4 linked regions of the Homo sapiens genome follow. The protein of the gene in region 2 interacts with the protein of the main gene of each other region in a biochemical or structural test. Each region holds a gene or a part of one and is shown on either strand. Other genes may lie near its edges.

Region 1 (7,045 bases), on a different chromosome or scaffold from region 2:
TCCGTTTCATTTTAAAATCAGGCCAGAGTCTAAATTTTGCAGATATTTAGATATATGCACTAAGCACAGAAGCCAGCCCACTTGATTTTAGTAGGTAGCAGTCTCCAGCAGGTGACTCAGGGCTGAGCACAAAGCCAGATCTCCTTTGTGGCCATAAAATGGGTGGGGGACGGGAAACATAGTCCACAAAGGGGGGAGGGGTATTCCCAGCAGTCATGTGGTGGCCTGAATGTTGAAACCATTCCTCAGGATTTTCCTGGCAGTCTCAATTTTAATTAAACTCTTTTATCCTCTTTGTATTTCTTCAATCGCTTTTCCTAATTTTTTTATTTGGAAAAGATGGTCTCCATTGTCATAGAGCAGTATTACATCTGGAATTAGCAGTGAGTACTCTAACATCATACAAATCGTATCCTGAAAGGAGCTGGTAGGCACCTGGAACAGTTCTCTAAAGATACCAGGTCTGCTTGTACTGGAAGCTCTCCACAGGGAGAGAGTGGTTTTTCCTAATGTGAGTGATTTCTGGGAAAGGAGATCTCTGAAGCCTCGTTAGGTTTCTGACAATCCTAACTGTTGGCAGCTTTGCCTTCCTGGGTCTGGGATCAGGTTGTCTCTCGCGGACTTTGAGGAGTAGAGGAAACTCTCATTTATATGTCCAGTATTTGGAGCTCCACTCTATGATCTAGAATTTTCTGACTGCCTGTTTGGAAAGAGTCATTCAAATGTTTACAGCAGGTGCCGTGCTAGAGTTAGACTTTGGACACAGAAACAGGAAAGGTTCTAGTTGAGAAAGTGTGAACTTCTTAGAACTAATATGGAAATACTAATGTAGCCATAAATAGTGTTCAACCATCTCGTTTCTGATGCCTTTCGAATGTTCAAATGGGTGAACTATTTGTGAATTATTCTCTTCACCTCAGAGTACTTTCAGCGACTGAAAAGGCAGCCACAGCTTGTCATTTTCAGAGACGGCCTCATTCTAATATACCTTCATACTTAAAATGACTTGACTTTTTAAACTCTAAACGCTTTAAGCTTCTGGGAAATATCTTTCAGCTGTCAGCCTCTGCTCTACCAGGGTCCTGGTTCCAGATGTGGGTAGGCAGCTGCTGCAGCTCATGAACAGCTCTGACTTAATTCTCTATTTATTCACACTTTTCTTCCTGATTCTTGTAACATTCTTTTCTTCCTTGCTTAGCAGACACACGTGGCTTGAAGTTGTCACTCTCCATCGTAAAGGAGCTAGAGAAAAAGCTGCACTGTTGCCTGGGGTTCCATAGCAGATGCCAGGGACCCAGAGTGTACTGTGTGAATAGAGGGCGATGCCCCCTGACTATAGTGCCTTTTAGATCACAAGAACAGCCTCCAAGCAAATGTTGTTTTGATAGAAATATAAACAGTGACATTTTTTCTAAAGCTGCTTTTTAAGTCTCTCTTCCTGACTTTGCCTATTGAGGTTTTGATTTATCAAGGGACAACATGTCCTGTTTTTCTGCTCAAAATGGAAAGTGATGTCAAAATGAAATAGACTTTTAAAAAGAGTTTGGTGGTTTAGATTTTCTTTTTCTACTCTGGAGTCAGATACATACGTGTGTATATATTTGCCTAGTAAAATCATTTTCATGTGATGCTTGTGAAATGTCAGCATACGGAAAATGATTTCTTAAACAAGCGGCATTTGGCAGGCTGTATTTAGTTTTCTAGTCAATCATTTCATAACTATAGGCCTCATGTAATTGCCCATCCTTTGGAATTCTTAAAGAAATAGAAGAAACTTCCTTGATTGACTAGAGAGTTCTGTGGTTAAATTAATTGGCTGGTGCCTTGAACCTTTAGGGTACCCTGGACTTAATTCAGGTTAAGATCCTTAGATCATGCCTCAGTGTCACTCTCAGAGATGGGACTCTGTAAAAAAGCGACATGATCCTATACGACATTTATTACATTCTTGATTGTAACAGGAAGAAAATCTATATAGGGTTTGGCGATAAGTTAAAATAAGCAAGCTCAAAGGTCAATGGCCTATGTAAACTTACATCTTGGAGATGGGTAACACTGATGTGGTTTCTCTTTGCATAGTTGAACCCTTCCTCTTCCTCTCTCCCTCATTCACCCCTATCCTGCTGTCAGAATTGATCTTGAGTTTTGGTCTCTTTCCCAAGAAGTAGTTCAGTTTATGGTTCTTGCTACCACTCAGCTTTTAACAGCAGTAATACAACCATAATGCCCATAGTTAATACGTATTGATCCCTTACTAAAAGCCAGGCCCTGCCTGGGTTTACTTAATCTCAGGTATGTATGTTGTCAGCATCTTCATTTTATGAGTGAAGAATCAGAGGCACAGGGTCCTAAAGCTACCTTGCCCCCTCCCTTTTTAGTGGTGGAGGCAGGTTTACACACAAGACCACCTGGCCCCAGGTGCTTCCCTACTTCACCCAGGTAACTTCAGGCCCTAGTCTTTGAACCATACAGATTTCACTTAAGATCCTGGCCCTCTTCTTGAATTTATGTCAGACACATGTGAGGCTTCATTCATCATATATTTCTAAGCAGGCTTTTGTGTGTCTGTTTGAATTCTTTTCCAAGAATTAGGGGAAGTGGGAGTTGGGTCGTGATGTGACAGTCAAAGGACTTAGCCGGAAAGGGTAGAGTTAATGCATGACAGACAAGGGGACTCTCATCTGAAAATTTGTGTGTCTTTGTTTCTTCTCAGGTTCTCCTTACTATGACAATGTCCGCCCCCTCTCTTACCCTGATTCGGATGCTGTGCTGATTTGCTTTGACATCAGTAGACCAGAGACCCTGGACAGTGTCCTCAAAAAGGCAAGTGCTGGGAAATGATGACACACTTCAGTACTGGGTGATGTATAAATAGAAACGTGGGGTTTGTTGGGAAGCTCAAAGACTCTAATCAATTCCCTGCCTTACAATTTGTAATTAAACACTAGAAAGAACCCTTTCACACCAAAATGGGGTTTCCACTTTTTGATGATGAACTTGCTTGAAATTTTATTTCATGAAGCTCTGAAACAAAATACCTTTTAAGGGCCTTCATGTTTGTCCTTTGGGAGAAAAATGGTACAGCTAACAACAGTTATATTTGATTACTATCATATTCATGTGTTCCTTCCTTCTTTCAGTGACTCAACAGATTGCATCTTAGTTTACAGATTTACATTTGACCTCAAGTCAGATAGTGAAAGGAATGCAATAATGGCTATTTTAACAAAGAAGCTGTGTTTTAGTTATGGTGTTATTAGAAACAGAAATGGAACTAGTGTAGGAGGAATAGGGATGTGTCCAATGTGAATTGTCTGATGATCAGGTATCTGTCTAGTAATTATGACCAGGTATCTTTCTAGTAATATGGAAGCAGTGCTTGTAAACATGTTATATATTATAATGTACACATAGTTTATGGAGGCAAAGGTAAGTCAGGTTCCGTAGGAACCTAACTAAGGAAGCTATGGTTGGAAGGAACCAGGGGGAGATCAAGAGGAAGAGGACCTATTACAGGATGGGTCACAGGAACTAGGGAGGCCAGTGGGAGGAAGGGGCGTTTCTTGACCTTCAGCAGTTGAGACTCAGCCTCCAGGTAGTTGTAGAAGGCACATGCCGTGTTAGTCCATGGATCAGCATTTATTAGCCACTAGCTATTTTCTCAGCCCTGGCCTGTGTGCTGTGGGGTTTCAGAATCAGATCCTTGTTGGAGCACTCCCTCTCCTCCACACACTGGCTTCAACACCGGATGTGGCTGAGAGCAAGGCAGTGTCAACTGAGGGGTGACCCATGCAGCCCAGTCTGAGTATGGTATGGATTGAGAAAGACAAACATGCAGGTGTGGCTAGGTTGGTTTTGTTTTTTTCATTTTAATTTTTAGTGGAATTTATTTGTATTTTGTGTGTTTTTATTAGTTTACATTCCCCTATTATATTTGATTGCTTGGCTTGTGTGTCATTGTGAAATCAGGATTTGAAGTATAATAATCCTTCTGTCTCTACTAAATATTACAAACAGAGTTCAATAAAACTCTTAGTAGATCTCTTTCTTAATAGATCAAAGACTCTTTTTTCCTTTTTAGCTCCTTTCAATTTTGAGTAATACATATCTAACACAAATAATGCTAATGCTTGTCAAATCCAGGCAGGAATACACCTTTCCTGTCTTTAATGCTTGTAAACAATTGCTAGACATGCAGAGGGAGGCCAAAGTCATTACACAGCTGAAGAGCAACATAACAACATGTCTAGTTCTGTCTGGAGATAAAAGGGGTTGCTTATTTACTAGAGATTTTACTTGATGTAGTATCAGGCTATGCATAATTTATGATGAAAAGCCTTTCTCCTGTTTTATTTTGCTTTTGTCTTCTAAGACCAAATGAATAGTGACTTTGGGCTTATAGATATTAATGAGTATGTTTTACATTCCTGTGAGGTTTAAGGCTCATGATAACCCCTGCGGTTTGTCTTGATTAATGGAACCCTTTAAGTCCTTCACTATCAAAGAGGAGGTTAGAATGACTTGAAGTAGGGAGGATTTCTTTTTTTTTTTTTTCCAGTTCACCTTCCACTTCTAATGCCAGTGCCACCTAGCATGTGGTAGGTGTTCCTACATAATTCTGAAAGGAGTGAGGGAGAGAGGGAGAGAGGAAGGGAGGGAGGAAAGAAGGAAAGAAGGAAGGAAGGAAGGGAGGGAGGGAGGGAGGAAGGGAGGAATAAGTGGACAAAATGGGCTCTTATGGAAAGTATATTACTCCTTTGAATCCTCTGGTGTAGTTTGCACTAGAGTTCGTTACCCAAAGTACACCCCTAGATTTGGAGATGTCTCCTCTAGTGATCTTTTAAGTTATTCTTGCAGGATGTCCCTCTTATCTAGTGTTATACTTAATACATGACTTCATCACCCCCAGTATTCTGTGAATTTCCTTCCAGAAGACACAGCTATGTCTTAGTCATCATTGTCACTGCCACAGTACTTAGTAGAACACTTACATATTTGTGAATGTGGGTGGGAAGAGTCAGGCGCCACTTCCCCATCTCAGCCTCTCTAGGCCCTGCCCTCAAAGGCCAAAGATCTCCTGTGACCGCCCTGAACTCTTGACTCCCATGCTGTTGCAGAGCTCAAGCTTGAGGAAATGAAGCCACAAAAAGCTGCTTGCTTGTTCTTAAAGAGGACAGTTGGAATTCCAAGCCAGGCATTGCTGAAGGTTCTAATAATTCTTGTTAGATCATGAAACAACTAGACAAATTGGAATAGATTGAAATAGTTTTAAACTAACTTGAAGGCATATGAGCTACAGGACCAGCTGCCTTCCCGATGACCCAAGAGATGTTCCTTTGCAAATGTCATGGTCTGTGTTGATGCAACCATGTGAACAGAAACTCCTTCAAGGCAGGATGTTCTGTTTTATTAACTATCTCAGGTACTTAAAATAGAGCCTCAGCTCGTGGTGGCATGCTTCAGTGTTTCATGATGGGATCAGGGAATGCATACTTGTGCTAGTGTTGCCTCTGCCTTATCCCCAGCCTTCTAGTGAAGGAGGATCAGATCCACACATCGAAGGATGTGGTCACTTGTTAGGATATATAATTATTCTTAAGACACATTTATCTTTAAGAGACACACCAATAATTAAGACATTATTGAAGCTACCTTTGGACAACATCTACCAAGTCTCTTTCAGTAGCAACAGATGAGTCACAGAGAGGGAGAATCAATCATAATATACATAATTATTCTCTAATGCTTAAAAAGTAGTAAAACTTCACATCTGTTCAGGAGATAAATGCAAAGTTTGCTTCTTCATCTCAAGGGACACTCCATTTTTAACATCTTTTCTGAGTTTCATTCTAATGTCAGCCAGTGGAGAAATGGTTTTCATGATATGGATACCGTTACTTTGTTCATTTTTAATCTTTTTTTTTTTTCTTTCATAGTGGAAAGGTGAAATCCAGGAATTTTGTCCAAATACCAAAATGCTCTTGGTCGGCTGCAAGTCTGATCTGCGGACAGATGTTAGTACATTAGTAGAGCTCTCCAATCACAGGCAGACGCCAGTGTCCTATGACCAGGTATGTATGTTGCCCATGTGCAAAACTGGATTTTAGAAAGAGTGAAAGAAATGGACTATCACTCATAATAAATAAAATAAAAAGTAGCTGCTTTTCTAAAGGCTCACCCAGTGGTCAGTTGTGAAATTTAAAATGCTGTCATTTATTAGTGTAATTACATGATATTCGGGTACATAAACAGTTGATATGCTAACCTTGTATATTTCTGCACCTCCCAGTAGGTTTAAAGTTAAATAGGTTTAAGAGAGAATGTGGTCAAAATCAGTAATACTCTTTAAGAGGGGTAATCTGATTTTACAGTCGGCAGTACAATAATAAGGCTGTTGCCAGTAAAGTGGAACACTCCATAACACCATCTTTCAGAGAGTCTTCATTTCTGTAAGCATTTCCCCCAAGTATTTAGAAATGAGAATCAGTTTCAAAAGCTCATTCTCATAAAACCTACAACCAGATTCTAAAGAGAGTTCATGTTGAAATACCAAAATTTTATTAAGAATCATCATTTTAAATACCGCAGTCTTCTTAGTCTTCCATTTCTCATTAGCAAAAAATTTGGTATTTTAAATAAGTAGTTTTGGTTAATGTGCACATGCTTATTGTTGTGTACGTTGGTGGTATGGTTCACACTTAGAAATTACATATGTTGTGTTTCATAAAGTAACAGATGTTACAATAGTATTATTCCTTTCCTCAACGCATTTCGGCCCTAAGTAAGACACAATCACATACATTTCAAAATCGATTTTAAATTTCATTCATTGCCCCTGTTTTTGGTACAACCTAGTCACTAGTCTTGAATGCCATTTACCCTCAAGAAAAGAGAAATGAAGTGCACCATGAGGCGCTGGAACAGGTTCTCAAGGCCACATCGCCACGGCCAGAGCTGTGTGGAAAATGCAGAGTTTATGTTCATGACCTTCAGCTAACTTACTTCACTAGTAAGCTTCTCTGCGCCATTCCATGCTTGCTGTGAC
Region 2 (2,970 bases):
TCTCCCAGGCTGGAATGCAGTGGCTTGATTGTGGTTCACTGCAACCTCCGCCCCCCCAAGGTTCAAGCAATTCTCATGCCTCAGCCTCCTGAGTAGCTGGGGCTACAGGCGCCTACTACCATGCCAGGCTAACTTTCGTATTTTTAGTAGATGTGGTTTTGCCATATTGGCAGACTGGTCTCGAACTCCTGACCTCAAGTGATGTCCCTGCCTCAGCCTCCCAAAGTGCTGGGATTACAGGCATGAGCCATCATGCCTGGCTTTAGTTTATATTTTAAAAGTACATTGCTGGTAATGTTTCTCACTTCAAATATTACAGACCAAAAGACATTCAGCAGCTATGCCTGTGACTGCCAACAAATGAAAAATCTCTAAGTCAAATTTCCAAGAAGGATATCTAAAGACTGTATTCTCTCAGATAGGTATTTTTTATCCTTTCACCTACATTTATAAACAATCCCAAATAATAACAGTATGATAGTGTGTACAGCTTCTGATTTTACTTATTTTACGGAATTAAACAGAAGTCTACTTCTTAGAACACCTAAATATTTATTTGGATAAAATAAAATAACAAGAATCTGGAGAAAAGAAACTAAGAGCCCCAAAGTTAAAGCTGGTAAAATAGTTCAAGAACTTGCAGCAAGTACCTAGAAAATATTAAATGGTTAGGACAAAACATTCACAGTTCAAGGTCCCAAGAAAATGATCTGGTGAGCAAATACATATACACACTTAAAACTAATCTGGATGAATTAGTGAAGCAATGAATAAATAGGTCAATTACTAAACCCACATAACTTATTCAAATAAAATCTAATACAAAAAATAAACTTAAAAAAATAGGTTAAAACACTAAATCTTAACTAAAATATTAGGCAAACTAGAACAGGAGGGCCGTTATTAAATTGTTCACAATAACTTACTATTTGAGACAAAACTGAATAGAAAATCTGAATTGTGAGAATAAACAAGTTGTTTCTCAACTACAATTATTTGACAGCTACTCAAAAAGTGCATATACTGCAGGTCTTAATACTACTAACTACTGGTAAAAATGACTAAACCAGAACTGCCAGCACCAAATTAATTTCAAGGGTTATAATTTTATGCATTTAGTATTAACTAAAATGCTAATTATCATTGGTTAGCTTTTCAAAATCATACTGCCTACAGAATTTCCACAAAAGACTAATTTCACACAATTTAATTAAGATGTGAATATGAGATTCTGTGACTCTTCCCACTCCTCTCCCCCTGACAAAGAAAACTCATATAGTGGAGGAAAAAATGGAGTCATGCAAATAGGACAATGATGAGGATCAATTGAATAGTGAAGACTCCCAAAGTTAATTAATTAGATTTTAACTGCTTCAAAAAGACCAGGGTACTTGGATCACATCAAGTAACTGGATGTTGGAATATGAGATTAATGCTTGTACAATCCTCTCATTGTATGTAAAGATGCTATCCTAAGAAAATGATTTGAATAGTATCTTCCCTTATTAAATCTTAGAAAATTTTACTTTCAGGTATTTCATAACCTGAAAAGGCTAAGAACTTCCAAGAGTTCTAATACAGTAAAAAAATCAACCATGTCCCATATGTATTGAAACAAATTAGAAACTGTTAAGAATTTAAGTACCTTGAAACTACTAAATTCAAGATAACACAAAGATTCATGTTGAACAGACCTCACCAGATCCAGACTGACAACATATACCACAAAATTTGGCCTAATAGTCACAAACCATGAAGACACAAATATATTCGTTAATATTAGCAGCTCTGCTATAACTAGAATAGTTTTCAAAATATTTCCAGTGGCTCTAAAGAATGTCTAGCCACAGCTCAAAAATCACATCCAGGTAAGATCTTAGTCTTAGAAATCTGTGCATTATCTTGTTTTCCTGATAATTTAAAAAATCAAATTTTCACCTATATACATCCCCAGAAAAAATTTTGAATCTCCTTTTCAGGTACAGTGAAAATTCAATAATACATCTCCTTAATAAGATTTCCATCATATTGATAAATTTATATTTTTATTTTTCATTTCACTTGAAAAAAATTAGCTAATTTTTACCAATGAAATGGTAAAAATAGAGGCAACTATAACTTAAAATTACACAGCTTCTTAATGTTTTATTCATAGCATTCTTTATACATCAGAAGCTTCACTGATATTTAATTTACTGCAGCATCCTGTAGGTGAAGCACAAAAATTACATTAAACAAAGAAACAAAAGCACTTTTGACTTTTTAAAATTATATGTGTATTTATATCCAGTTGACAAATAGCATCACAATTATTACTGTATAAAAAACTAAAAATCACCATGGAAGCTAAGGCCTAAATTCTCATTCCAATTGTTCCCTTTTGTTGATACCTAAGAGATATTAATTAGATTCCAGTACCTCAAAAAAAAAAACAAACCCAAATAAACAAAAAAACCCAGGTCTACATTATTTACATACAGTATGGGAAAAAAAGCTGCTTTTTGGCTAACTTAGATTGCGGTTACCTGCAGTATTTACACTGTAAATGTTAAGGGGAAGAAGCACTACTAACAAATACCATTTAAAAAAAATATATTGTGCCTGGAATTTTATTCTTAAATTAGTTGTATATCCTAATAAGTGTCTGTTGAATAGAATTTGACTTCTAATAAATCTACTGAAAGTGTGAAACAGAGTACCACTATGCTTCTTTATATTGCTAATCTAGATCCTGTTAGGTCCAATATTGTAGTTAACTATAAGCACTGAACCTTAAATGAAACAATGGCAACATGTGTGTAGATGAAATTTTATTCAGTATTGTAAAATATAATGCCTTGATGTTTACTCACAATTATGAGACTATCCTATTCTTTTAATCCTTTAAGAAGTCTCATATGATAGGTCCCTAAACAGTGAAACCTTCCAGTAACTTACCAGAAAAAAGTTTAATTATGTTATTCTGTTCTT
Region 3 (7,602 bases), on a different chromosome or scaffold from region 2:
TTTTGTATTTTTAGTAGAGATGAGGTTTCACCATGTTGGCCAGGCTGGTCTCGAACTCCTGACCTCAAATGATCCACCCACCTTGGCCTCCCAAAGTGCTGGGATTATAGGTGTGAGCCACTGCGCCTGGCCCGGAAGAGCCACTTTAATGTATTAATCTGGCTACAGACTTTTATTTGATTTTTAAAGTTTTTTTGTAGAGATGGGGTCTCACTCTATTGCCTAAGCTGGTTTTGAACTCCTGGGCTCAAGTGATCCTCCCACCTCAGCCTCCCCAAATCCTGGGATTATAGGTGTGAGCCACAACACCTGGTCTTGGCTATGGAGTTTGAAATAAAGTTATTTAAAAGAGGTTTAAACAAATTTGGAGGAGAGAATCTAAGTGCTAAAATAATAATAATAATAATAACATCTAGGCCAACCACGCTGGCTCACGCCTGTTATCCCAGCATTTTGGGAGGCCAAGGTGGGTGGATCACCTGAGGTCACGAGTTCCAGACCAGCCTGACCAACATGGAGAAACCCCGTCTCTACTAAAAATACAAAAATTAGCTGGGTGTGATGGCACATGCCTGTAATCCCAGCTACTTGGGAGGCCGAGACAGGAGAATCGATTGAACCCGGGAGGGCGAGGTTGAGGTGAGCCAAGATCGTGCCATTGCACTCCAGCCTGGGCAACAAAAGCAAAACTCTATCTCAAAAAAATAAATAAATAAATAAACTAAATAACATCTAAAAACTTCTTCTCTAGTTAAATCCCTCACATTGCATTTAAGGAAATAGGCACCCAGAGAGGGAAGTAACTTACCCAAAGGCACACAGCTTGTTAAAGGCAGAGCGAGGTCCAAGGCCTAGACCTGCTGAACTTCAGTTCCATCCTTTTCCTGTTACCTCCCTGCCCACTGATCTAACACACACGCTTTCACACACATAACACCCTTTCCACCAAAACTCATAAACATATGACCCACAAAATATCCTTGGAGACACATCTTGGGCCTCAGCCATGGTGGAGGCTGCTCTGTATAATGGCTCGGGCCTTCTGCTACTTGACCCTGAAATGCAGCCACCCAGGGAAGAATCAGTGTTGGCACCAGCTCTCAGAATTTCTGTCTTGGAGGAGCTCAGGAATGGCAATGTTCTTAGAAGCCAGAAGAAGCTGTTTGCTTAGCAGGAACAATTTTTACTTATTCTGAAAGTTTATTTGGAGTGGTGGATGAATGGTGTGTGTAGGGGGAGGCTGGTAGAGAACATGGAGAGAAGGCTAACACCTGTGGGGTTGTGATTGGAGGGAACTCAGTTAAGGGTTAGGAGGATGTATGGGGGACTGGGTACGGTGGCTCATGCCTGTAATCCCAGCACTTTGGGAGGCCGAGGCAGGCGGATCACAAGGTCAAGAATTTGAGACCAGCCTGGCCAACATGGGGAAACGTCGTCTCTACTAAGAATACAAAAATTAGCTGGGCATCGTGGCACGTGCCTGTAATCCCAGCTACTCAGGAGGCTGAGGCAGGAGAATCGCTTGAACCCGGGAGACGGAGGTTGCAGTCAGCGGAGATTGTGCCACTGCACTCCAGCCTGAGCAACAGAGCAAGACTCTGTCTCGGAAAAAAAAAAAAAAAAAAAGAGGATGCATAGGAACTCTACTGATGCTTCCAGAACTAAGCCCAGATGAGACTGAAGGTAGGGGACAGGAGGATACAGAAGGAGAAGGTCAGGCTGAGGGAAAGGACTCCAGATTGAGGCAGTCTATGATCTTACAGCTGTTCCTGGAACTATCCCAAACCCCACTTATAGACAGCTCACAGAGGCTGTCAGGCTGCTGGAAAAGGGCAAGAAGAGGACAAATTCTATCCACAGAACATTATCTGAGGGTGGAGGATGAGGGGAGATAAAGGGCAGAAACCTTCAGAAAGCCTGGGAGAGACGGCAGCCAGCTAATGGTAACATCTGGCCTTTCCACCCTGAAGTTTCCCTCAGGCCATTCCCCATCCCTGGAAGTGAATGGAGCTTAGGACATGGGTGGAGAGCAGGTATAGGCCTTGGCCCCAGAGCCACGACGAGGTTTGACTGGAGGAACACTGGTTAGGCTGTATTCTCAAAACAACATCCACTCTCCTACTGCCTGTGGTGGGCACTAGAAATCTCATTCTTAGAGATCTGTCCCTTTGGGTCTGTGAAAGGCTTTCAAGCATCCTTTATCACAGGGAAACTATCCCTGGGTGGGGCAGCAACAACTGTGAATTAAGAGTAAAGCTCAGGCTGGGGCACAGTGGCTCACGCCTGTAACCCCAGCACTTTGGGAGGCCGAGGCAGGTGGATCACCTAAGGTTAGGAGTTTATGACCAGCCTGGCCAACATGGCGAAACCCCATCTCTACTCAAAATACAAAAATTAGCTGGGTGTGGTGGCAGGCACCTGTAATCCCAGCTACTCGGGAGGCTGAGGTAGGAGAATCGATTGAACCCGGCGGGCACAGTTTGCAGTGAGCCGAGATTGTGGCACTGCATTCCAGCCTGGGTGAAAGAGCAAGACTCTGTATAAAAAAAAAAAAAAAGTAAAGCTCAGATGAAACAAGGCCCAGGAGACACTGGGCTTGACAAGGGAAAGGGACTACTCTCAATTTTGCCCAAAGTTGGTCTTCCTTCAATCACAAATCTCCAGGAGCCCTTATTTGTACGGTCTTGATTCCTGGACAATCAGTGGTTTATTTAAGCTGTGGACAGCCCATAGTTCTGTCTAGTAGAGGCTCCCCAAAATACAGGGGCCCCATCAGTCAGGGCTGTTAAGAAGTTATGAAGCTCGGCTGGGCGCGGTGGCTCACGCCTGTAATCCCAGCACTTTGGGAGGCCGATGTGGGTGGATCACTTAAGGTCAGGAGTTTGAGACCAGCCTGACCAATATGGTGAAACCCTGTCTCTACTGAAAATACAAAAATTAGCCAGGCATGGTGACGTGCGCCTGTAGTCTCAGCTACTCGGGAGGCTGAGACAGGAGAATTGCTTGAACCCGGGAGGCAGAGGTTGCAGTGAACTGAGATCAAGCCACTGCACTCCAGCCCGGGTAACAGAGCGAGACTCCATCTCAAAAAAAAAAAAAAAAAAAATTTATGTAGTTCATCTCAACCTTAGATTGTCCTCCAGCTTCTAATCCCAAAATCCTGGGCCCAGTCTGGACTTTAACCAGGTGACACACATTAGTGCGTCAGTTTCAGTGGGCGTTAACATGGAACTGGACCTGTGCCTGATTCATCCAGGAAGCTGAGCCTAGGCCGCAGAACAAACACCCCTAAGCAGCTTCTGCTAGGCATGGGTGAGAGGCTGTCTGGCCAAACAGTGACTGTGTTTGCTTTGTCTTCTTCCTCTCTCCCACCCCCACTTGCCAGAGTCCCTCATTTCTCTCTGCCCATCACTGGGTCAGGTGCTGTGTGTTTTTTTTATGGATGACTCTAGAAAGTTTTCTCTTTCTCTTTCTCTCTCTCTGTCTTTGGTGGTGAAGGTGATTCTTGAAGAAGAGAAGGCTTTAAAAGGGGCACAGGCCGGGCACGGTGGCTGACGCCTATAATCCCAGCACTTTGGGAGGCCAAGGCGGGCGGATCGCCTGAGGTCGGGAGTTCGAGACCAGCCTGACCAACATGGAGAAACCCCGTCTCTACTAAAAATACAACATTAGCTGGGCATGGTGGTGCATGCCTGTAATCCCAGCTACTCGGGAGGCTGAGGCAGGAGAATCGCTTGAATCCGGGAGATGGAGGTTGCAGTGAGCTGAGATCGTGCCATTGCACTCCAGCCTGGGCAACAAGAGCGAAACTCCATCTCAAAATAAATAAATAAATAAATAAATAAATAAATAAATAAATAAATAAATAAATAAAAGAGGTACAGCAGGAGCTGATATTGGGAGGGGAAATAAAGGGAAGTAAGAACTGGTTTGGATGGGAATTAGAAAAAACAAAAAAGTCAGACATCAGGCCAGGCGCTGTGGCTCATGTCTGTAGTCCCAGCACTTTGGGAGGCTGAGACAGGCGGATTGCTTGAGCCCAGAAGTTCAAGACCAGCCTGGATAACATGGTGAGACCCCTGTCTCTATTTAAAACAAAAGATGTAAGGAAAAAAAAGAAAAAAAATGTCAGAGAAGTTCTGGGCCACCTCCCCCATCCCCTACTCCTCCAAAACACACACACACACACACACCTGTCTATAGTCTAAGCAGGTCCTGCTTTTGTAACCCACCCGGGACAGTCCCTGCAACTCCAGCCTGACCTCACTTCCTGCTTCCATAGCTAGTTTGTTTTTCTGACACTTATTGGTAGACACTCCAGATCATTTCATTTTGCTTCCAGTACCCTTTCCACTTCCTAATACAAATGCAAAACAACCTGGGAATCCCCTTTCAGGGGGAAACAACGGTGCAGCTTTAAGAGAAAGAGAAGGGAGGAAGGGGGCGCTGACTCAGATCCTCAGATCCATTGGCTGCTGGAGGGAATCCCACCTCAGGGATTGGGCGTAACAGAGTCCGCCTCCTCTTGTGATTGGCTCAGCCAGAAAAATAAAAGGCGGCTGTGCCGGCCTCCTCCTCAGTTGGAGGGAGGCAGGGAATCTGGCTTGATTGGCGTGCTGAGACGCACCTGGCGCAACCCTCCCTTCTGAATCGAAGTTCAAGTCCCGCGGACACTGCAACCATGAAGGAGAGACGGGCCCCCCAGCCAGTCGTGGCCAGATGTAAGCTCGTTCTGGTCGGGGACGTGCAGTGTGGGAAGACCGCGATGTTGCAAGTGTTAGCGAAGGATTGCTATCCAGAGGTGAGCTGCCCGCCCGCCCGCTGGCCGGCTTTTCTCCCTGCCTGCCCGCCTTGGGGTAGATTTCCACCTGCTCAGGAGACGTGGCTCCCCCAGCCCCAGCCCATCCTCAGCCGCTTTCTGAGGCTTTACCATCCTCAGCTGCTTTTTGGCTGGAGGACTGCCCTGCCTTAGCTTCCCCTGAGACCTGTTCCACTTCTGCCGCCCCGCTGGCTCCTCCTCACCTCTTCACCCAGAGGACCCATCAGATCCCCTCCACCTTCCTGCGTCCCTGGAGTCTGCTCTCAGGTGAGGGCACTGGAGGCATTTGAAAGTCTGGGGTTTCTTCTTGACGTAATCCCTGCCTATCCGCTCACCTGCTCCTCAAAGGCTCTATGCCTGTGCCTTCAGGCAGGCTTCTGCAGCCCCTCTGTTCACCTGGCCGGGAGGGGTTTGAGAGGAGATGAGCTAGGATTGGCTTTGGCCTGTGGCTCTCTCAAATTGGGAAACACAAATCTGGGGATGGGAGGAATCTGTGTGTGTGTGTGTCCCTGATCGCCTAGGATATGGGGGGCTTACCCCTGGTGTGGTGGTGTGGGGGGGTGTCATTCACATTTCTCACTGCTGCAGAGCAAAGTGCCTGGTCCTCCACAGTCCCTTCCCTCCTGCCCCAGGCATCTCCTCTGGTTTCTTGTCTCCTGTGACTTTACTGTCTCTCTGGTGAGTGCGTGTGTAGCCAGCACTAACCAGGGGATCTGAGGGTAGGGGTGCATGGGGTGAATGTTTCCTCTCTTTTCACAGACCTATGTGCCCACCGTGTTCGAAAATTACACAGCCTGTTTGGAGACAGAGGAACAGAGGGTGGAGCTTAGTCTCTGGGATACCTCAGGTAAGAATTCTGCTCCAAATACCCCTTTCCCACCCCTACTGGTCTGCTGTGTAGCTGCTGTCTTTTAGAAATTGTTTTCCCCTTTGGTGGGGAGAAGTGAAAAAAGAGGATCTGAAGACTCATTAGTTGTGGGGAGGGCTGACAGTTGGTGGACTCAGTTGCATGGTCCAAGGGTGCAGAGTGGGTGAACCCCAGGAGCCACTCTCTTCCCTGGGTCTGGTTCCACCCTTTAGAGGGCTGGGATGGTGAGGTGAAGGGACCCATGAATAGTCCTGGGGGTGGGCAGTAAAACAGGACTTCTCCATTTCCATTCCCTACCACCCAACATGCACGCGTACACACATGCACACACACGCGCGCGCGCGCACACACACACACACACACACACACACACACACCTTTTACTTCCCCAGAGCAAAGCCAAATAAGAGGCAAGAGGCAGTGCTGCTGGAGGCAGCGTGGTTGGGGCGGAGAGACAAGTCTGCTTTGGGGAAAGGTTGCTCAGACTCAGTTTTGTCTCCTGCATTCCATCTTGGGCCACTGCTGTCCTCCTGCCGCAGCTCAGCCCCACTCGTCACACCGCTGCAGCTCGGGGATGAAGCAATGCATCATCGATGTTTTGGAAGTTGGGGGAGATGGCTTAATATAGGGCATAGTCAGTTGTGAATAGTGGCCGGCAGGGCAGAGGGGAGGTTGGCTCTGACTGTTTTCCCTCTACTGGGGTGAGGTAGAATATGCCCTGTCTCTCTAGAATGTAGAAACAATGTTTTTCCAGCCTCTCAGCCCCAAGCCCTTAGTGCTAGGCTATCCTTTGCCTTGATTCTGACCCCTTCCCATTATCTCTTTACCCCAGACCTTTTTCAATAGACTGGCTCAGAGTCATAATTAAGGAGTAAAAGCCGGGAATAAGAGAAAGAAAATAAAATCCACCCCTCCCCAAAAATGCATATTCAGGCTGAGTTTAAAAAGGGACCGTAAATCACTAGGTGTTTCCTGCTACATATAATAAATATGCTGTCCTGCTCCTTCAACAGCTGTTGTTCCCATGCTCTAATTCTGAGGTCTGAAAAGATTGGGGCTAGGGAATGGTTAGACAGACAATGAGCCTTTCCTCCCCAAACAAAAATTCCCCAATCTGGTATGCTTTTCCCTGTTGCAGTTTCAGGGCTTGGGAGGCAGCGTTCTGGTTCTCCTGGGCTGTGCTATGCTGGCAAGATTGGGCTAGAATGCAGCTTGATGGCATGATGTATAATTTTTGGTTTTTCATCTGCTGTACCCTCCCACCTTCCAATCTTCCCAGAATCTTACTGCAGCTCATCTCTTTTCACTACCACCGCCCAAACGCCCTCCCCCCACCTCCTCCCTCCTTTGACAGTCAGAATGCAGCCCTCAAATCCCAAACCAGATCATGGAAAATCAGCAAGTGTAGTCTCTGTTCCCTGTGTCACACCCCCACCCCCAATTTCCGAAAGGATAAAGGCTGTCAGTTATTCTCAAACTCCCTCTTTCAGATTAGGTTCCCATAAGGAAGGAGGAAGTGGCCATGGTGTGTGGGATAGGGTTTCCCAATGTTGGGCTCAGGGTTGACCCTGTTCCCATTATTTACTTGCTAGTCTTAGGGGAGGGGGATTGCTTGGAGCCAAAATGGAGGCCTCCTCCCCTCCCCCTTCCCCAGTGCTGCAGTGCTTCCGCTCCTCAGTGCTGCAGTGGTAAGACCCCACCTCAGAAAGGGATGGAGGAGGCTTGCTGAAGGAGCAGGCAGCTATCCCAACTCCCCTGTATTCCTTTTTTTAATGACCAACATCCCCCCACCAGCTTGGATTCCCCCCAGTTTCCATGGCGATTGTGGTGCAGGGAGAGGGGCTGCTTGCTATTCTGAGCACGGATTGTCTGGGTTCCAAATCCGCTACTGCTCCTTCCCCAGGGTGGAGGGGGC
Region 4 (4,356 bases), on a different chromosome or scaffold from region 2:
CCTCATCCCAGCCTAGACCTGTCACCTCTGCCCCTTCAGTCTCTGATTTGAAAACACCTTACCTGGCTCATCCTTTGTTCTGGTCTGTGACCTCTGACCTGATCCCTTGACTGCCCCCAGCCTTGACATTCAACCCCAGCCCACAGCCTCCATGCCCCTTTCTAAGCTGCAGGCTAAGACCTATAACTTTCTCCCATGCACTCCTTCCTTTTCCAGGGCACTGTGCTGGCCAAGCAGGTGGGGGCTGTGTCCTATGTTGAGTGCTCCTCCCGGTCCTCTGAGCGCAGCGTCAGGGATGTCTTCCATGTGGCTACAGTGGCCTCCCTTGGCCGTGGCCATAGGCAGCTGCGCCGAACTGACTCACGCCGGGGAATGCAGCGATCCGCTCAGCTGTCAGGACGGCCAGACCGGGGGAATGAGGGCGAGATACACAAGGATCGAGCCAAAAGCTGCAACCTCATGTGAGGGGCTAGGAGAGGGCAGAGTGTGAAGAGGGGTGGTGAGGGACACAATTGTTCCCCTGCCTGCGCCCAGGCTTCCTGACCTCCTGATCCTGGCTGGGAAGTTAGGGCAGGCAGAGCGAGCAATTCTGGGCAGGGGAGCTGGAGGGCAGAAGGGTATCATCGTTTCTCATCTCCTCCTCCCTCCTCTTCTCCAGTGGATGTTGAGGGAGCTAACAGGGCTGGCATCTGGGGCATGAACTGGGATGGGGCAGGTGGGCGTTAGGGAAGCTGGTATCAAATGGTGACCTTGGTGGAGTCTCCTATGTGAAGAGTACCCTCCCTCTCCACCCCCAGTCCCCATATCCTGGTTCTGGCCCAAGGAAAATGTCCATTCTATGACCTTCTCTTTTCCTCTCCTCTCACTTCTGCAGCTATTCTCACACATCTAACCTCTAGGCAACATGCACTAAATTCAAAAGCAAGGAGAAGCCCTTGCCCCCCATCAGTCCACCAGCCCTAGAACCTCCCTTGCCTCAACAGTCACCTAATAAAGCCCACCTCCATGGAAAACGGCTGTGGCTTTAGTTTTGTTGCTTTTTAAAAAAATCAATCTACCAATCTTTAGCAGTAAGAGGGAAAGTTAGACCTCAGCTGGGGAACTTTCCTGTCCATGTCCACAGATAGAGCAGAGGACAAAGCCATAGGTTGGATCAGAAGTGTCCTTTTAGGAGTCAGAGTTGGGAGAAGGAGACATCCTGGGACTGTTCATCCTAGTTAATGAAGTGGGCAATTCTCAGGCCATTAGGGGGTTTTAGAGCAGACCGACATATAATTAGTCAGCATTTCTCAGCCCAGCCAGGCCTGCTGCTAGTGTGGGAGGGGTCCTGCTCACCATCTGTACCCCTGGCTTGGAGCCTGCTGGTACCCTGGGGGTTGTGGGGATAAGGAGGCATCAGGCCGGGCGCGCTGGCTCACGCCTGTAATCCCAGCACTTTGGGAGGCCGAGGTGGGCGGATCACAAGTTCAGGAGATCGAGACCATCCTGGCTAACACGGTGAAACCCCATCTCTACTAAAAATACAAAAAATTAGCCAGGCGCGGTGGCAGTGCCTGTAGTCCCAGCTGCTCGGGAGGCTGAGGCAGGAGAATGGTGTGAACCCGGGTGAACCTGGGAGGCGGAGCTTGCAGTGAGCCGAGATTGCGCCACTGCATTCTAGCCTGGATGACAGAGCAAGACTCTGTCTCCAAAAAAAAAAAAAAAAAAAAAAAAGAAGGCATCAAAAGCCTCCACATCACAGAAGCTACCCCTGTACAGCGTGAAGTTTCCTAAGAGGTCAGTAGTTTGATTCTGGGGTCTCCTTAGAGGCTCAGGCCAGGGACCTTTCTCTCCTCCCATGCTGAGTTTCATGATGGCTTTCAGGGGAGCATCAGCTGTTAGAGTCACCCCTACCCTGTCCCTTAAAGGAAAGACGGTGGAGAGGACGGCTGAGCGCCTGTTGTCAGGAAAGACAGTACTGGTCTGTTTTCTCGGGAGTCTGGTTTCAGATTGTCCTGTATTCCCTTCCTGGCTCTGGTCCCACTGGCCTCTTTTCGGTGACATTCTCCCCCAGGAACCATCCCTGGCCCTTCCCTCCCCCAGCCCTAGCCAGTTCTCCCAGACACACTGGAAGAGAACACTGACCTTACCCAACTATCTGCTGGGATCCCACCCAAATTTATAGCCCATTCCTCCCTCATTCATTCATTCAGCAAGTATGTACTGAACACCAACTGTGTGGCATACACTGGCTTGGGAGATTGCAAGGACCAGTCTCTAAGCTTTTGGAGGCCAGCCCAGTGTGGAAGAGAGGTACCTCAGGTGTGAGGGTGCCATGGCTGAGGGATATTTGTACATGTATGGGATGCTATGGGAGCTCCTTGCAGCCTGAGAAGCCAGTCCTGTGAGCCAGGTCCTGAGGGTTGAAGAGGAGTTTTCCGGGCAGGGAAGGGGTAGGAAAGGCACTCTGGGCAGAGGGTACAGCATGTGTAAACACGTGGAGATGAGAATGAGCATAGCACTGTTGGGGCTCCCATGGCAGGGAGAATAGAAGACAAGGCTAGGAAGGTACACTGAGGCTACTGCAGGGTCCACAGAGGAATCAGAATTTCATTCTGAGGATGAATGAAATCATCCTCAGAGGATGAAGCCACCAGGAATTTCAGGCAGAGAGTGAAGTGATCAGAGTTGTTTTTTGGATAGATGGTTATCTGGATGTGGTGTTGGAGCTGGGAGATTTGGCTCTGAGGTGTGTCATTTAAAATAATAGCTTCTCGGCAGTGGCTCACACCTATAATCCCAGCCAAGATTCCTCCTTTGGGAGGCCAAGCTGGGAGGATCGCTTGAGGCCAGGAGTTAGAGACTGCAGTGAGCTATGATCATGCCATTGTCTTCCAGCCTGAGTGTCAGAGTGAGACCCTGTCTCTAAAAAAAATTAAAAAATAAAAAATAAAAAATAGCTTCTCCTTTCCCTTATGCCAGGTTCCAGTCTTGAGAGGAAAGGAATCCCTACCCACCACTCCCTGGATCATCAGATATCCCTATCCCAACCTCTCCTATGGGACTAGTTCATCTCAGCCAGTCTCAAAGATTCTAGGATAACTTCAATGGCATTTGAAATTATCTAAGTGTGCTTGGATAACCACCCCCTCAAACTGAGACCTGGTTAGGGACTGACTCAAAGACCCTGAGTCCTCGGCTAAGGGTACAGGAGAGGGCAGGGGCTCCAGGCCCAGCTAGGTGGATCTCCATCTGTCTCTGAGGACTGACCCTTTCCCCACAAGGACCTGCCATAAAAATCGACTTGCGATTTTTAGCTGAGTGGCTTCTCTTTTCCACTTTGGACTTCTCAGTGTATAGCAGGTTCAAGCCTGCAACCACCAAAGTGCAGAGTGTGGAGTGTTTGTGCCCCCTCTTTCCTCCAACCTCCATATCCTGCCATGTGAGCTCAGGGAATGCAAATGCATTTAAATATCCATCTAAAGCAAACATAATTAGAAAAATCAATCAGCTGGAGGACCCCCCAAAGTTTAATACATTTTCAATACCACCAGGAATGGATTTTTGGTCCCTTTCTGCAGGTCTGGGTTGCCAGACGTTTTATTTCTGGGGAGGAGGGCTCTGGGCTGAGGAGCTCAGTGGGTGGGAGGAGGGAATGGGACTGTTGCTGATCCTCAAAGGCCTCTGTAGGATGGAGGGAGGGGACCTTACTCCCTTCCCCACCCCAGATGCAGGAGTCACCCAGCTTCCTTCTCTGCGCTGTTTCCTTCACAAATTAGACATTGGTTTGGGAAACAATGTAGCCTCGTTAAACATTTAATGAAATAAACAAATAATCACACTGTGATGGCTGCCAGAGTTTCTGTGTTTTTTTTTTTTTTTTTTTTTTTTTTTTGAGACGGAGTTTCACTCTGTCATTCAGGCTGGAGTGCAGTGGCACCATCTCGGCTCACTGCAACCTCTGCCTCCTGGGTTCAAGCGATTCTCCTGCCTCAGTCTCCTGAGTAGCTGGGACTACAGGCGCGCGCCACCATGCACAGCTAATTTTAGTGTTTTTTTTTTTTTTGAGACGGAGTTTCACTCTTATTGCCCAGGCTGGAGTGCACTGGCGCGATCTCGGCTCACGGCAACCTCACCTCCTGGGTTCAAGTGATTCTCCTGCCTCAGCTTCCTGAAGTAGCTGGGATTACAGCCATGTGCCACCATGCCCAGCTAATTTTGTATTTTTAGTAGAGATGGGGTTTCTCCATGTTGGTCAGGCTAGTCTTGAACTCCCGACCTAACGTGATCCACCCACCTCGGCCTCCCAAAGTGCTGGGATTACAGGCATGAGCCACCGTGCCCAGCCATTTTTGTATTTTTAGTAGAGACAGGGTT

The links.
Region 1: the proteins of ARHGAP5 (region 2) and RND3 form a complex in vitro, tested with the Homo sapiens proteins (one study listed by BioGRID).
Region 3: the proteins of ARHGAP5 (region 2) and RND1 form a complex in vitro, tested with the Homo sapiens proteins (one study listed by BioGRID).
Region 4: the proteins of ARHGAP5 (region 2) and RND2 form a complex in vitro, tested with the Homo sapiens proteins (one study listed by BioGRID).

Annotation. Positions count from the first base shown.
Region 1 is NC_000002.12:150,470,653-150,477,697, reverse strand, and holds part of RND3 (rho-related GTP-binding protein RhoE precursor), read left to right. Parts: intron 1-2,713; coding exon 2,714-2,823; intron 2,824-5,936; coding exon 5,937-6,071; intron 6,072-7,045. UniProt on the Homo sapiens protein: Binds GTP but lacks intrinsic GTPase activity and is resistant to Rho-specific GTPase-activating proteins.
Region 2 is NC_000014.9:32,157,291-32,160,260, reverse strand, and holds the end of ARHGAP5 (rho GTPase-activating protein 5), read right to left. Parts: 3' UTR 533-2,970; downstream 1-532. UniProt on the Homo sapiens protein: GTPase-activating protein for Rho family members.
Region 3 is NC_000012.12:48,862,847-48,870,448, reverse strand, and holds the start of RND1 (rho-related GTP-binding protein Rho6 precursor), read left to right. Parts: upstream 1-4,578; 5' UTR 4,579-4,681; coding exon 4,682-4,801; intron 4,802-5,578; coding exon 5,579-5,666; intron 5,667-7,602. UniProt on the Homo sapiens protein: Lacks intrinsic GTPase activity. Has a low affinity for GDP, and constitutively binds GTP. Controls rearrangements of the actin cytoskeleton. Induces the Rac-dependent neuritic process formation in part by disruption of the cortical actin filaments.
Region 4 is NC_000017.11:43,028,216-43,032,571, forward strand, and holds the end of RND2 (rho-related GTP-binding protein RhoN), read left to right. Parts: intron 1-216; coding exon 217-465; 3' UTR 466-874; coding exon of another isoform or gene 875-899; 3' UTR 900-3,826; downstream 3,827-4,356.